2 separate regions of the Homo sapiens genome follow, and region 1 is linked to region 2. Evidence: fine-mapped expression QTL. A gene starts in region 2. The other region holds a variant in brackets. All regions are shown on one strand. Distances are from middle to middle.

Region 1 (8,330 bases), 25 kb before region 2:
AAATAACAGCACCTATCATTTATTTTATTTATTGAACATGCACTGTGTGTCAAAGGCTGTGCTACATGCTTTACATATTATAGTTTGTTTAATCCTTTCCAAAGCTCAAATTTTCTTATTTTACTAATAAAATCATCCCTTTGTAATGTAACTTAGCCCAAATCACCAAGTTGGTAGTACATTTCCAAACAGGACCTATAAGATACCAGAACACCCATCAGCCTTTTTTTTCTACTTACTCTTTTGCAAAAGCTACTTTCTAATACTTGAGTATCTTTCCTTTTTGCCCAGGCCAACATTTATGTTCTCCTCTATTCCACTCTTCTGAATATTAACAGAAAGGGGAATAAAAAGTGTTGGTTTTATTGGGTTTCCTATTGACTGTCTTCATTTCTTCCCAGGCAGATTTGTCTAGCTTGTCACTAGACCAGCAGCCAAAGTCTATTTTATTTACTCCAGTTTCCTGTGGATAACATGGTGAAGAGTGAGATCAGAATCCTGGGGGTGCTTTTCAAGCCACACAGATTCCCTCCAAAGATTCTGGCCTTCCTCTTGCTAATACCCGTCCTCTAGCCCATGCGTACACCTACGCCTACACATATACACCTCCACATATACACACCTCCACATATACACGCCTACACATATACACACCTCCACATTTACACACCTACACATATACGCCTACACATATACACCTACACATATACAGCTACACATATACATCTACACATATACACCTACACATATACACACCTACACATATACACACCTACACATATACACACCTACACATATACACACCTCCACATATACACACCTACACATATACACACCTCCACATACACACACCTCCACACATACGCCTCCACATACACACACCTCCACATATACACCTCCACACATTCGCCTCCACACATACACACTGGTGTAAAGACTGCATAAGGACAACCTAAGAACTCTGGTTTATGACTTTGTGAAAAGAGGATTCCTTATACCTGTGTGGCCCTTCTTCCGAGGTTTTCAGGGCTTTCACTAAGGACAAAAGCATTCTTCCCTTGATACCTCATAAAATTTGCCACAGTTAACTTAAATAACACCCACTGTTTTCTCGGTAAGAAACATCTGCTAAGGAAGGAAATTATGCAAATACAGCATTCTTGGGATATTAGAAACCCTCCTGCTTCTAAATTCACTGGCACCTGGTACTGCTTTCAAGGGAACAAGCTTCTTAACTGTTGTAAGCCTCTTGAAGAGCCGATTTAAAAATCAAGCCAGTGTCACAAGTGGGTTAATTACTGAGGGCACAATTGCAGGCACCTATTCGATCCTAAATCGTGGGTGAACATTTGTCATTTTAATTTCTGTGTAATAAAATGGAACCAGCTTCAACAATTGGTCCTCCAAAGAGTAAGGGCATCATGTTGTTTGTAAACATAGACCAGTTACTCTATAATGTCCCACAGCTAAAAGGTTTTTTTTAAAACAACCAACAATACAACTGTCAGCATTTCTAAATAACAATGCTGACTATTACTAACATTCTTGCAAATAAACTTTCAGTTTTTAGTCAAGTCTCGCTGAGTTCTACGTGTGGGAGCTGAGAATGAAAAGACTGAATTCGGCCGGGTGTGGTGGCTCAAGTCTGTAATCCCAGCACTTTGGGAGGCCAAGGAGGGTGGATCACTTGAGGTCAGGAGTTCAAGACCAGCCTGGCCAACATGGCGAAACCCCGTCTCTACTAAAAATACAAAAATTAGCAGGACATGGTGGCACGTGCCTGTAGTCCTAGCTACTGGGGAGGCTGAGGCATAAGAATCGCTTGAACCTGGGATGAGGAGGCTGCAGTGAGCTGGGATGGCACCACTGCACTCCAACCTGAGAGAGAGTGAGACTCCGTCTCAAAAAAAAAAAAAAAAAAAAGAAAGAAGGAAAGAAAAAGAAAAGAAAAGCTTGAATTAACAGCAAAAGGCAGCAAAAGCCAGAAGGAGCCTAGAAAGACTTCTAAAATATCTCCTAAGACAGGGGCCCGTGTCTTTCACTTCATCTTCGCAGCTTTCCTTAACTTCCCTTACTACTTTTTTTTTTTTTTTTTTTAAGACAGGGTCTCACTCTGACACCCGCGCTCTAGACTGCAGTGGAGCAATCATAGATCACTGCAGTCTTGACCCACTGGGTCCAAGCAATCTTCTTACCTCAGACTCCCCAGTAGCTGGGACTATAGGCATGTGCCACCATGCCTGGCTAATATTTTTTTTTATGTTTTGTAGAGACAGAGTTTCACCATGTTGCCCAGGCTGATCTTGAATTCCTGCCTTTTCGATCCTCCTGCCTTAGCCTCCCAAAGTGCTGGGATTACAGGCATGAGCCACTGTCCCAGGCCCCTTCCCATATTTTGATATTTTGACAGAACGAATCCCAACAACCCCTGGTACTTCACTGCTTTGGGGGATTATCATTCATAGCCTTGCAGTGGTGGTGTTATCTGCCCAGCAACAATGCATTCTCCCTTCCTCTGGTTACCTTTGGGAAATAACCTCTCCACCAAACTCAGTCGACGAGGTTCAGGAGAGACTGTCCCCACTCCCCATCTTCAAGGATGGACATGATCAGAGCTAATCGGTGCCGACCCCAAGACTTTTGCTGGCAAAAGAGGCTCTTTGCTGCTGGGGTTTCTGGCTGGTAGGAGGTAAACTGGAAAGCTGAGGGGCTGCTACACAGGGAGGGCACACCTGAGACTGAAGCCAGCACAGGACAATGGAGCGGAGTGACTGACGCCTGATGATAGGTGTTTTTGAACACCTGGACCCATCCATCTATCTTTGACTTTTCAGTTACATTACCAATAAATTCCCCTTTTGCTTAACCTGGTGTGAATTAGGTTCTTAGTTAATATAAGCACATATCATATTGTATGATAAATACTGTTTACCCAGCTCCCCACCTCACCCACAAACATAGCTTCTTGGAGCCTGACAGGGACTGGATCTAATTGTCCATGTGGACCAAGGGCCTAGCACAGTGTCAAGAGAGTGAACAATAATTGCTGACAATGAATGATTTAATAGACACCAGGGCTGTTGTAGGACTTTCCAGGATCTCTCACTTAATTCTTTTAACAACCCTATAAAGCAGATGCTATTTAATATTGCCTGATTTTACAAATAAGGGATTTGTGGCATGGAGGTTAAATAGCTTGCCTAGGGCAAAAGAGACGGTAATTTTCAGAACCAGCCTCATTAAACAAATGACAAAATTATAGTAACAGCTACTACAAAAAATGGTTTGCCAACCTTGTAATTTTATGCTCCAGAAAAAATTAAGATGGTTTGAAAGGCCAGGCATGGTGGCTCGTACCTGTAATCCCAATGTTTTGGGAGGCCGAGGCAGGAGGGTTGCCTGAAGCCAGGAGTTTGAGTAGCCCGTGCAACATGGCAAGAGCCCCAGCTCTAAAAAAAATTTTTTTAATTGGCCAGGTCTGGTGGCACGGGCCTATAGTCCTGGCTACTTGGGAGGCTGAGACAGGAGAATTGCTTGAGCCCAGGAATTCAAGGCTGTAGTGAACTATGAAAGAACCACTGCACTCCAACCTGGGTGACAGAGTGAGACCCTGTCTCTAAAATAAATAAATAAATAACAGTTTGGAAACTATTGCTTCAGATTTCTACTGCATACATACGCTATTACAACAACAATAACAATAGCTAACATTTCTATAGTGCTTTCTATGCGTCAGGCCCAGTTCTAAGAGTTACCCATATTAATCTTTCAAACCTTTATTCTCTTCCCCAATTTACAGAGGAAAAAACAGGCAGAGGTTAAGCAGAAGGTGAAGGTGAAGATGGTGAGCTGGGACTTGAACTTAGGTATTCTGGCTCCAGAGTCTGTGTTCTGCCCAAGATACTGTTCTGCCCTGATCAGGATCAGTATTCAATAAGTACATAAATGAAAGGGGAGGCAGTCAATCCTCTGTAAGAAGCAGGAAGGCTCAGTAAGAAAACTGGAGTATTTCTTAGCCTAAGTCAAATACTCATTCAGTACGGTTCCTATA[C/A]GTGTTGCAGACAAAACAAGAGCAGACAAAACAATGTTAAAATGTAAGCTTTTAAAGACTGCTAGCCAATTACATAGTCTGAGGGATTAGCTGCCATCTGAGATTCTTCCACACCATAGCATCCTGTATTGGCAAATGTGGTGGGCAATATTAAGTTTGCCTCCCCAGCATTCATTCCAGCCCTGCCTCCCCTACCGACAATCCCCAGCTTACAATTATTCAATGCAGGATTTTTCAGCTTTATGATGGTGCGAAAGCAACATGCATTCAATAGAAATTGTACCTCGAGCACCTGTACAACCATCCTGCTTTTCAATTTCAGTACAATATTCAGTAAATTATGTGAGATATTCAACACTTTATTACAAAACAGGCTTTGTGTTAGATGATTTCGCCCAACTGTAGGCTAATCTAAGTGTTCTGAGCATGTTTAAGGCAGGCTAAGTTATGGTGCTTGGTATTTTCAAATTACAATGGATTTATTAGGATGTAATTTCATTGTAAATTGCGGAACATCTGCACATAGCAGAGTATGGATGAGACTGTCGCACTGCCAACTCTAGAAGTGGACTAGTCAGTGTAATCAGTGGAATCCTTCCCACCCCAATGACTGGTTCTGCAGTAGGCAGTAACCCAAGCCTGTAACAGTTAGTGCCAGGCATTCCCTGACTGTAGTTCAAGTTGGCTCCATCCGAGTGGTGCTCTGGGCTTCTATTCACTGGAGGAAAGGTTACCCCTCAGCCCTTCATAGAAGAGGAAGCCCTGGCTGTTCCTACAAATGTCTGCTACCATGCAGGAAGCCTAAGGACAAAGCCAATACACACACAGGAAGGCAAAACCAAGAGAACGGCTACACTGATCAAACCCAGGTGTGACTGAAGCCCAACCTACCTTCTGGACTTCTGTTACACAAGCTAATGTATTTCCTTTATTACTTAAGCCCATGTGAACTGGGTCTTTTGGCATTTTAGCATTTCAGCTGTAGAGGAAGGAAAATCAAAACTAGACTTAGTGCACCACTACGCAAGAGAAGTTCTGAAAAGCAAAAACTCACTGGTAATATTCCAGGACTGGCTTTGTTTGGTCTTCATAAGCCTTTAGTCTCTTGATAACCGTCTCTGGTTTATCATCCTCACGCTGAATGAGAGGCTCCCCAGTCAGGTCATCAATGCCCTAAACAGGATTAGAAGAGACTAGTATCAGATATCATATTTCTGAAAGATATTTTCATAAGCAGTTCAATTATTTTTAAACAGACATCTCTGTGCAAGTGCCAAGCACAAAAATGTGCTAACTTTTAAAAAAATGGAATCCAACCTCAAAAGAGATCATCGCAACAGAAACAGGGTACGCCAGTTTCATTTCTACAGTTATCAGTCACTTTAGCCTTAGAGTAAAAGGTTTTCTAAGCAGCCTCTAAGTAAGTTCATATATATTCAAAAAGATTCAGCTATAAACTTGGAATTTCAACTGCAAGTCCTAAATAAACCAAGGTGTTATGAATCTCTATCAGCGCAACTCCTAACACACTCCTTGGCAGAGCAGGAAATCAACAAATGTTTTTGAATGAGTAACAAACCCCTGCTGCTCCTGGGGCAACCTTTCGCACCAAGCTCAGTGGACTTGATCAGTCAACTCTACCAAGTAACCTGAGAATATACCCTCAGGAGTTTTGGTCAGAGGATTTCCAAGTTCACTCAACTTATGTCTGTTAGGGCAAGAGGACTCAGGGACAGTCTGCTATGTGACAGTTCCACAACAACTACTCACCACAGTTTTGGGAGGGTTGAATTCAATGTTATAGACTCGGCCACTGGCGGGATGAATCCAGCGAGCAGTAAGGCGTTGTTTAATGACCTCAAAGGGCACATTCAGGTTAATCACTGTGTCGATCTGATAAGCTCTATCTAGGGCTTCTGCCTGTGGAAGTGTCCTTGGAAAACCTTTATAAAGTAAAAAAGAAAAAGAAGAAGAAAAAAGAAAGGAAGTATGGGGTGGGGGTGGGGCGGGTGGAGAAAGAAGAAAGAAAAAGAAAGAATTAATGTTGGACAATCTGAACAAAAGGAATGAGGCTCACCAGGCAGGCCGATCACAGCTGCGGTGCAACTGTGATGGTTACCTGTCAACTTGACTGGGGCATGAGTGCCCAGATATTTGGCAAATATTATGCTGGGTATATCTGTCAGGCTGCTTTTGTTATGAAATTATCATGTAAATAGGCAGACTGATAAAGTACATTGCCCTTCTTAATATGGGTGGGCCTTATCTAATCAATTTTAAGGCCTGAGTAGAACAAAAGGCTGACCCTCACCCAAATAACAAAGAATTCCTCCTGCCTGCTACCTCTAACTGGGACACAGGACTTTTCCCGCCTTTAAACTCAAACTGAACTCATGATCTTCACCCAAATCCAGGGACTGGCCGGGCGCAGTGGCTCACACCTGTAATCCCAGCATTTTGGGAGGCTGAGGAGGGCGGATCACCTGAGCTCAGGAGTTCAAGACCAGCCTAGCCAACATGGTGAAATCCCATCTCTACAAAAATACAAAAATTAGCCTGGCATGATGGCAGGTCCCTGTAATCCCAGCTAGTTGGGAGGCGAGGTGGGAGAATCGCTTGAACCCGGGAGGGGAGGTTGTAGTGAACCAAAATTCTACACCAGTGCACTCCAGCCTGGGTGACAGAGCAAGACTCCTCAAAAACAAACAAACAAACACTCCAGAGGCTATTTCTGAAATATGACAAAATGAAACTAAAGTCCAGCTAAAGGAAAACTATTAATGCAAAAGGATAAAACCCTAACAGACAAAGAGATGTGTTATATAGCTAAACAATGTGGTTCAAAAACAGAGAGACAGGCAAATGTACCTAATGAGTGAATTCAGAAATACACCCAAGTATATTAGGGAATTTAAAATAATACTTTGATCACAAACTTCTGACTTTGCAATGTTGTTACTAAGGACATTTTGTCCAGAATACCAGAAAAAAATTAAAATTAGTAGAAATAATATATTTTCAAAAATGACAAAAGTTAGGCCACACATGGTGGCTCACACCTGTAATCTCAGCACTTTGAGAGGCTGAGGCGGGAGGACTGCTTGAGCCCAGGAGTTTGAGACCAGCCTGGGCAACATAGCAAGACCCCTTCTCTATAAATAACAACGACAACAAAATTAGCAGGGCGTGGTGGTGCATGCCTATGGTCCCAGCTACTCAGGAGGCTGAGGCAGGAGGATTGCCTGAGCTCAGGAGGTCAAGGCTGCAATAAGCCATGATGACTCCATTGCACTGCAGCCTGGTGACAGAGCAAGACACTGTCTCCAAAAAAAAAAAAGTGACAAAGGTTAAAACCGCACATGCATAATTTGTTAGAGCAAAAATATCATCTGAAAAATTACATTTTCTTGTTAACAATGAAATGTGGAAAAATTTGCCAGTGATCTAGACCTTACAATGTGCTAAAATGACAATGATAACGACTAAAACTATACCCAGGAAACCTGGATTCGGGAGAAATAATGGCCCTTTCCTGGGCAGCATCACCAGCCTACCTTGGTTTACCTTGTTCCTGCTGCCAAAGATAACCTGTCTCTCCACCCATGTAATCCTACTCATTCCTCAAGACCTCCCACAAATGGGAATGTTTTTCAGCCCCTTACACCTCATAAAGAAGCAAGACTTTTCATTAAACTTTTTAAAACAAAATTTTGAATTCTGAACCATGCAACATATTTTGTTTTAAAAAGGAGAAGATGCCAGGTGCGATGGCTCATACTTGCAATCCCAGCACTTTTGGAGGCTGAGGTGGGCAGATCACTTGAGGCCAGGAGTTTGAGACCAGTCTGGCCAACATAGTGAAACCCTATCTCTACTAAAAATACAAAAATTAGCCACGTGTGCTGGTGGGCACCTGTAATCCCAGCTACTCAGGAGGCTGAGGCAGGAGAATCACTTGAACTGAGGAGGAAGAGGTTGCAGTGAGAGGAGATCGCACCATCACACTCCAGCCTGGGCAACAGAGCCAGACACTGTCTCCATTAAAAAAAAAAAAAAAGTGCCTACTCCTCAACTACATTACTCTCTGTTCACATCAACTTCTTTTTTTTTTCTGAGACAGAATCTCACTCTGTCACCCAGGCTGGAGTGCAGTGGGGCAATCTCGGTTCACCGCAGCCTCTGCCTCCCAGTTCAAGCAATTCCCCTGTCTCAGCCTCCCGAGTAGCTAGGGTTACAGGTGTGCGCCATCACGCCCGGCTAATTTTTGTATTTTTAGTAG
Region 2 (8,330 bases):
CCTTAGCTATAAAATACAGCCATGGGTTATAAAATATAGCACCCTCATGAAACAATGACTGGAAACTAAATTGGCACAATCCTTCTGTTGTATTATTTGATAGTACCATATTTGTAGAAATTCCATACTAGGAATTTATTTGAAGGAAATAAGCAAAGATTTGCCAAATGTTTATGTGCAGGGATAGTCATAACAGTATTTATTACAACAAACAATAGTTAACAACATACGCGTCCAATAAAAATGTTTAATAACTATACAACTTTGATAAAATTAAACATCTTTTTTTTTGAGACAGAGTTCCGCTCTTTTCACCTAGGCTGGAATGCAATGGCGCCATCTCGGCTCGCTGCAACCTCCGCCTCCCAGTTTCAAGTGATTCTCCTGCCTCAGCCTCCCAAGTAGCTAGGATTACAAGCGCCCACCACCATGCCTGGCTAATTTTTGTATTTTTAGTAGAGACAGGGTTTTGCCATGTTGGCCAGGCTGGTCTTGAACTCCTGACCTCTGGTGATTCACCCACCTCAGCCTCCCAAAGTGCTAGGATTACAGGCGTGAGACACCCCGCCCAGCTTAAACATCATTTTTAAGACTGCTTAATGATGTGTGAACATGCTCACTATAAATGAGAATAAAAAAGTAACCTATCATTTAGAATATGACAATTTTAGAATACAACCATTTTGCAAATACAAATGCAACAGAAATAAAAAAGAAAAAGAAAAAAAAAGAATAAAAGAAAATGCACCCAAGAGTTAATTATAATCATCTCTGTGTGGCAAGGCAGAATTATGAGGGATCTTAATTTACCTTTTTTACATTTGCATGAAATAGATATAGTTTCCTTCTTTTATAATAAATATGCTTTACTTTTTTTTTTTTTTTTTTTTTTTTGAGACAGGGTATCACTCTGTCTGTCACCCAGCTTGGAGTGTAGTAGCACAATCTCGGCTCATGACAACCTCTGCATCCCGGGCTCAAGTGATACTCCCACCTCAGCCTCCAGAGAAGCTGGGACCACAGGCGCGAGCCACCATGCCCAGCTAATTTTTTGTATTTTTGGTAGAGACGGGGGTTTCGTCATGTTGCCTAGGCTGGTCTTGAATTCCTGACCTCAAGTGACCTGCCCGACTCAGCCCCCAAAGTGCTGGGATTACAAGCATGAGCCATTGCGCCAGGCCTACTCTCCTAGACTTTGGTTAACCTGACCCCAACCAGTAGCAGTATCTGGGACTGTTTAATGTTACCTAACTACTTCAGTATGTCGCATTAACAACATTTAGCAAGCAAGTCAAACAATCTCTGTTCTTTCTTTCTTTTTTTTCGAGATGGGGTCTTGCTCAGGCTGGAGTGCAGCGTTGCAATCTCGACTCACAGCAACCTCCGCCTCCCAGGTTCAAGCGATTCTCTCTCCTCAGCCTCCCGAGTAGCTAGGATCACAGGTGCCTGCCACTGCGCCTCGCTAATTGTTTTTGAATTTTTTATAGAGACGCAGTTTCACCAAGTAGCCCAGGCTGGTCTAGAACTGCTAAGGTCAAGTGATCCGCCCGCCTTGACCTCACAAAGTGCTGGGATTACAAGTGTGAACTGGTTAAATAAATCATACTAGATTCAGAAAATACATACTACAAAAACAGAATGAAATGGATTTGTCCGTTTTCATGTGAAATATATCCCAGACACAAAGTGAAACCACACTAGTGCAGAGTATATACACATAGTATGCTCACATATTACATACAAGAAAAGATACACGTTGGCCGGGCGCGGTGGCTCACGCCTGTAATCCGAGCACTTTGGAAGGCCGAGCCGGGTGGATCACGAGGTCAGGAGATGGGGACCAGCCTGGCTAACACAGTGAAACCCCATCGCTACTAAAAATACAAAAAATTAGCCCGGCGTGGTGGCATGCGCCTGTAGTCCCAGCTACTAGGGAGGCTGAGACAGGAGAATTGCTTGAACCCAGGAGGCAGACAGAGCAAGACTCCGTCTCAAAAAACAAACAAACCAAAAAGAAAAAAAGAAAAAAGGTACACGTATCTGCGCTTAAAAAGTAAACCTTTCTAGAAGGAAAACTCTGTTCCCCTCCGAAGAATGGGACTGAGGTAGGGAACGAAAGAGGGCGTTGTTTTTTATGCTATGCACGTCTATCCTGTTTGCTATCCTTACAAAAAAAAAAAAAAAAAGAAGGAAAACAAAAGAAAAAGGCCTTGTGGAAGCATTATTTCTATGTAAATGGGTTTCAAAATGAGTTTCAAAACGGGTTCTATTTTGAAAAGTAAGGTCAACATTTTTTGAGAAAAAAACTCCTGCGATTGGCTTTTCAAAAACAACCCTCTTAAGAGAGAATTTACATACCACAAATTCACCCATTGTATAGTGTAGATTGTTAACTGCCTTTCGTGCCGAGCTGTAAGAATTTATTTGGCATGAGAAACAAAATATTTTATAGAACCATGCACAAGAATAGCCTTCGTGTCTACGAAATCTAAGGATATCAAAATGAGATAATTTTATGACTGCAACAAGGGTAAATAATACTTGGCCTTGGGAATATGGGGGAAAGGTCAGAACTACAAGATCTCATAGAGCTTAACCACACCAAAAAAGAAAGAGAAAAGAAAGAAACAAAGAAAACAAAACAGAACGAGCAGACTCTAGCAGGGCTAATGACAGTCTTCCAAAGGCACCAGCACGTTGAACAAGCTGCGGCTCAGCTCGATGGACCCCCAAGAGTGGCTGCCACTGGGAGGACTTGGGCCTCTGAAACAAAGCCCGGTGGTTTCCTTTCATCTCTGAACTTCGAGCTCGACCTAACTTTCCAGTCCCTTCCCCCACCGCCACCCCATAACCCGCCCGAAGCGGCCCACGGAGGCCGGAGGTTTTGGGGCGCAGTCGCTCAGCAGCCCGAGGTCTCTGTCCCGGGCGGCGGGAGGGAAATGCCGCGCCCGCAGCCAGGGACCCGCGTGCCCAGCTTCGGCCCCTCGCCCGCGAAGTCCGACCCGGGTGACAGCGCACGGCCGGCCCTGGGCCCAGAGCTCCCACCTGTGCCCCGCAGCATGTTGTCCCGGAGCAGGTCCCCGCTGGAGAGGTGCTTCAGCTCGAAGTGTGTAGTGATGCGCGACGACACGGTGCCCTTGCCCGAGCCCGGGGCCCCCATGATCACCGCTCGCAGCAGCCGCGCGGACGCCCCCATGGCCGCAGACTGAGGCCCGCACCGCGCGGGTACCAGGGCTTTGGCCTGGCCTGCGCGCTCACCCGCTCGGCAGCCTGCGCCGGCCGGCTAGCAGCGCCACTAGCAGGCGGCTACTGCGGTTCCCCGGCGTTCCCGGAAGTGAGCCGACAGCCCCTGGGGCCGCCCAGACAGCGCGGGACCCCGCTGTTGCGTCCGCCTCTCGGCTACCCCGGCGCACCCCCCGCCCCCGACCGAGCGCCTGTTCCCGCCCAGCCGCGCAAGCCGCGCAAGCCGCGCCCCCTCTGCGCTCGCTCGGCCGCCCAGCTCCCACCTGCGCCTCTCCGCGGCCCCTCTCCACCGGCCGCTGGGCCCGGATCCCTTCGGCGCCCCTCTGCACCCACCCCCACGCGCCCTCCACTCGGCTCAGATCTACCTCCGCGCCTCTCCGCGACCCCGGAACCCCGCGCCCTGTCCGGCCCATTCCCAGCCGGATAGACCGCGCTCCCCTCTGTCCGACCTTGGCAACTCCTGCGCGCCCCCTCCCCACCTCTAGTCGCCCCTCGGAGCCGCTTGGTTTCGGGATCCACCCGCATCCACCCCTCCAACAACCCTTTCGTAGCCCTCGCCCCTAGTCCATAGCAGGCGCTGCCCTACCCAGTCCTTGCCGGACACACCGCGACCCCTTTCGTGCTCCCTTGACAACCCTGGCCCCACCTCCACCTGGCGCCCACTCGAATCCGCCCCTCCCTTCTACCCCCCTGGACCGCCAGACCCCCCGCTTCTGCACCCACTCCCGCCTTCGCCCTTCCCTCCTTCCTCCTCCTCCTCTGCTGCCGAGCGCCCTCTCTTCCCACTCCCTCTCTGTGTAGAATCACAGGGAGTGACCTTGAGCCGAGAGGGCCTACCTCATTTTACAGGAGAGGAAATCCAGCTTCCATTGAGTGAGACTCTTTTATAAATAACGTAAAAGAGTGTGTGAAACTGTGGAGGCAGGCTGTTGTAGATAGGCGGTCGGAAAAGCTTTGAAGAGATGGCATGTGTGCTGAGTGCTTAATTAGAATATGGAAGAGAGAGACATGGGCCCTTCCTATGTCCAGTTTTAGGAAAAGGCCCTAAAACTGGAGGTTTGGCATGTTTCAAGAATGGAAACAGAGGACAAAAACGTTCGAGTGAGTATCATTTTGCCTGTAAAATGGGCATAGAGGAGTAGAATGGAGGAGTTAAAATAATGTAGTACTTAGTGCAATGCCAGCTACGGGGTCAATGTTCAATAATGGTTGTCCATTTATCATCATTGCTTTGTCCCGGACACTATGCTAAGGCAGAAAGAAGGCTCTCTGAAAATAAAACACAGTTACCATTCTCCTCAGAGGTCCAGAACTGATTTCAAAGAAGATAGAAATGACTTCAGGGTGAGACAGTCAGTGAATCGTAGCTGAGTGAATGGATGGGGGATTTCAATAGGTAGACAGCCTGGTACTTAGAAAAGGCATTAGCCTTTATACTTTCTGGTGTGGAAAAGAAAGAAAGAAAATACATACCTTGTACATTTTTTTTTCTTTGAGACAGAGTTTTGCTCTTGTTGCCCAGGCTGGAGTGCAATCGGCTCACGGCAACCTCTGCCTCCCGGGTTCAAGTGATTCTCCTGCCTCAGCCTCCCGAGTAGCTGGGATTACAGGCACACGCTACCGCACCCGGCTAATTTTATATTTTTAGCAGAGACAGGGTTCCTTCATGTTGCTTAGACTGGTCTGAAACTCCCGACGTCAGGTGATCCACCCGCCTTGGCCTTCCAAAGTGCTGGGATTACAGATGTGAGCCACCGCGCCCGGCCTCGTTTTGTTTCTTTGAGACGGGGTCTTGTTTTGTTGCCCAGGCTGGAGTGCTGTGATGCGATCTCAGCTCACTGCAACCTCTACTTCCCAGGTTCAGGTGATTCTTATACCTCAGCTTCCCGAGTAGCTGGAATTACAGGCACCCGCCACCACGCCCAGCTGATTTTTATATTTTTCGTAGAGATGGGATTTCACCATGTTGGCCAGGCTGATCTCAAACTCCTGACCTCAAATGATCTGCCCGCCTTGACCTCTCCAAGTGCTGGGATTACAGGCTTGAGCCACCCCACTGTGCCCAGCAGGGCTCATACATACTCATTACTAAGCAAGAAAGAATGAAAAGAATGAAAATAAATGAATTAAACATTGAATTCATGTAATTGGGAAAAGGACATCAAAATAACCCATGGAAAGCAGAGGAAGGGATGAAGTAAACAACATAAATGAAAGGATGAGAAAACTTGAACAGAACTAACTAAAGAATGAGCAAGTCTGGACAAGTACAACTTATGCAATACTAGAAAATCTGAAGGTGTGGAGAAAGTACTTCTAATCTCCAAAGCTGGGAACATAGGAGGTTTCAGCTCCAAAAGAAACCAGAAAGAAAATCCTGGGGAAATTTGGTTTAGAAAAAAAAAATGTTCAAACAAACAAAAATAGCTGAGGAATCATCCTGTCATTGCGGGGATGAAAAGCTGAGTGTCGTGGTCATATTAACAGGCCCGCAAAACACCAATCAACTTTGGCTTTGCAAAAGGTTGTTGATTACAAATGAGTAACTGCCAGTCTGTGAAATCTCCTGGCAACTGTGCCTGGCATAGTCTTTTCGCCATTCACAGGCCTTTGTATGGATCTGTTCCTCACTGCCTACCTTGTTCCAACTGAAAAACACTGAGGTCAAATTCATTCAAATTCTAATTTAATGACCAAGTGTTTATACAGATTAGTTTGAAGCAAATAAAGCCCAGATGAGTGCTTTGCACATAGTAGGCACTCAGTAGGGTTTTGTTGATTAAATACTAAGAATTACTGTTTTGTCACTTTTGTTTGTTTGTTTTTGAGACGGAGTCTCTCTGTCACCCAGGCTGGTGCAGTGGCGAGATATTGGCTCACTGCAACCTCTGCCTCCTGGATTCAAGAGATTCTCTTGCTTCAGCCTCCCAAGTAACTGGGACTACAGGCCTGCACCACCATGCCCCGCTAATTTTTGTATTTTTAGTAGCGGTTTTGCCATTTTGGCCAGGCTGGTCTTGAACTCCTGACCTCAAATGATCCTCCTGCTTTGGCCTGCCAAAGTTCTGGGATTACAGGCATGAGCCACCATGCCCGGCCTTTGTCACATTTGAAGACTGAAATGTTTAAGTCTTCAATGTACAACTCTACAATGTACAACTGAGGGGGAAATGATAGGCATGTGTCATGGGTTGAATTGTATTCCCCCAGGAGATATATTGAAGTCCTAATCCCCAGTACCTCAGAAGATGACCTTACTTACACATAGGGTCTTTGCAGACATAAGTAGTTAAGATCAGGTCATAGTGGAAGATGGTCAGCTCTTAATCCAATATGACCTGAAAACATAGCAGGAGAATGCCATGTGACGATGGAAGCAGATATTGGGCTTATACAGCTACAAGCCGAGGAACACCAAAGATTGCTAGGGACACTAGAAGCCAAGAGAAAGACACAAAGCTGATTCTCCCCTAGGATCCTTGGGAGAGAATAACCCTGCCCTTACCTTGGCTATGAATTGTAGTCACTAGAACTGTGAGAGAATAACTTTCTATTGTTTCAAGCCCCCTAGTTTGTGGTAATTTGTTACTGTAGCTCTAGGGAACTAATACAGCTTGTTTCCAAGAAACATGTATATGTGTTTGTATGTTGCTTCACACTATGTGTTACCTAGGTGAGAACAAAAGAATAGGAGGGTTCATGTTTGAGAAATAATTACTAGGATTGTAGTGATTGTAGTAAGACAAAGAGAAGGAAGGTACATCAGTTATCCACTACTATAAAAATCCACTCCAGGCCAGGTGTGGTGGCTCACACCTGTAATCCCAGCACTTTGGGAGGCCAAGACGGGAGGATCACTAGAGTCCAGGAGTTTGAGACCAGCCTAGGCAACATAATGACACCCCCTCCTCTACAAAAAAAAAAAAAAAAAAGAAGAAGAAGAAGAACATTAGCCAGTGTGGTGGTGTGCACCTGTGGTCCCAACTATTTGGGAAGCTGAGGTGGGAGGATTGCTTGAGCCTGGAAGGTTGAGGCTGTAGTGAGCTGTGATCACACCACTGTACTCCAGCCTGGGCAACAGAGCAAGACCCTGTCTCAATAAATAAATGAATATCCTGGCCGGATGTGTTGGCTCACACCTGTAATCCCAGCACTTTGGGAAGCCAAGATGAGCGGATCACTTAAGGTCAGGAATTCGAGACCAGCCTGGCCAACATGGTGAAACCCCCATCTCTACTAAAAATACAAAAAATAGCTGGGTGGGATGGCATGTGCCTGTAGTCCCAGCTACTTGGGAAGCTGAGGCATAAGAATCACTTGAACACTTGAACCCGGGAGGCAGAGGTTGCAGTGAGCCAAGATCACGCCATTGCACTGCAGCCTGGGTGACAGAGTGAGACTCTGTCTCAATAAACAAACAAACAAACAAACAAAAATTAGCTAGGCGTGGTGGTGCACACCTGTAATCCCAACTACTCAAGAAGCCGTGGCAGGAAAATCACTTGAACCCGGGAAATGGAGGTTGCAGTGAGCCGAGATCGCACCATTGCACTCCAGCCTGGGTGATAGAGTGAGACTCTGTCTCGAAAATAAATAAATAAATAAAATATCTGGGGGAAGAATGTTCTAGAGAGAAAAAGAACAAACGCAAAGCCCCTGAGGGAGGAGCGTGCTTGAGTTTCCAAAGAAGCCATTCTGCCTGGAACAGAGAGAGCAAGAAATGAAAGTTATTCAACAAGAAAGCTCAGGGAGGTAGTGAGGGTCCAGACCTTACAGGGCCTAACAAACCACTGTGGCAAATGGTATTGTCTGAAGATGGCCACGACGCCCACTCCCAGTCCATGAGCTTATCTTCGACACTTCTCCCATCAAGAGGTGAGGTCCCTGTCCCCTCCACCTTTAACTGAATAGGCTTCTGTGACTGTTTTGACCAATTGAGCATGGTGGAAGTGATATTATGTGACTTCCAAGGCTAAGTCATAAAAGACAAAGCAGCTTCTGATTTGTTCACCAGGACACTCATTTTGGAAGCCTATAGCTGCCACATGGGGAATCTGACTGCCCTGAGGCCAACAGGCTGTAAGGAA

What was found. PIP is the estimated chance that this variant, and not a neighbour inherited with it, causes the effect.
Region 1: its variant is fine-mapped to the expression of AK3 in whole blood (INTERVAL, PIP 0.97).

The regions. Positions count from the first base shown.
Region 1 is chr9:4,713,314-4,721,643 of GRCh38, forward strand. It overlaps AK3 (adenylate kinase 3), which reads right to left. Exons shown (of 5, transcript NM_016282.4): 3 at 5,822-5,994; 4 at 5,106-5,224. It overlaps LOC124902112 (a long non-coding RNA gene), which reads right to left and starts at 5,099. Exons shown (of 2, transcript XR_007061401.1): 1 at 4,943-5,099; 2 at 3,761-3,969. The variant C/A (reference allele first, on the strand shown) is at 4,052.
Region 2 is chr9:4,737,892-4,746,221 of GRCh38, forward strand. It overlaps AK3 (adenylate kinase 3), which reads right to left and starts at 3,311. Exons shown (of 5, transcript NM_016282.4): 1 at 3,046-3,311. The coding sequence starts at 3,196. RefSeq lists silencers at 2,841-2,980, 3,211-3,700.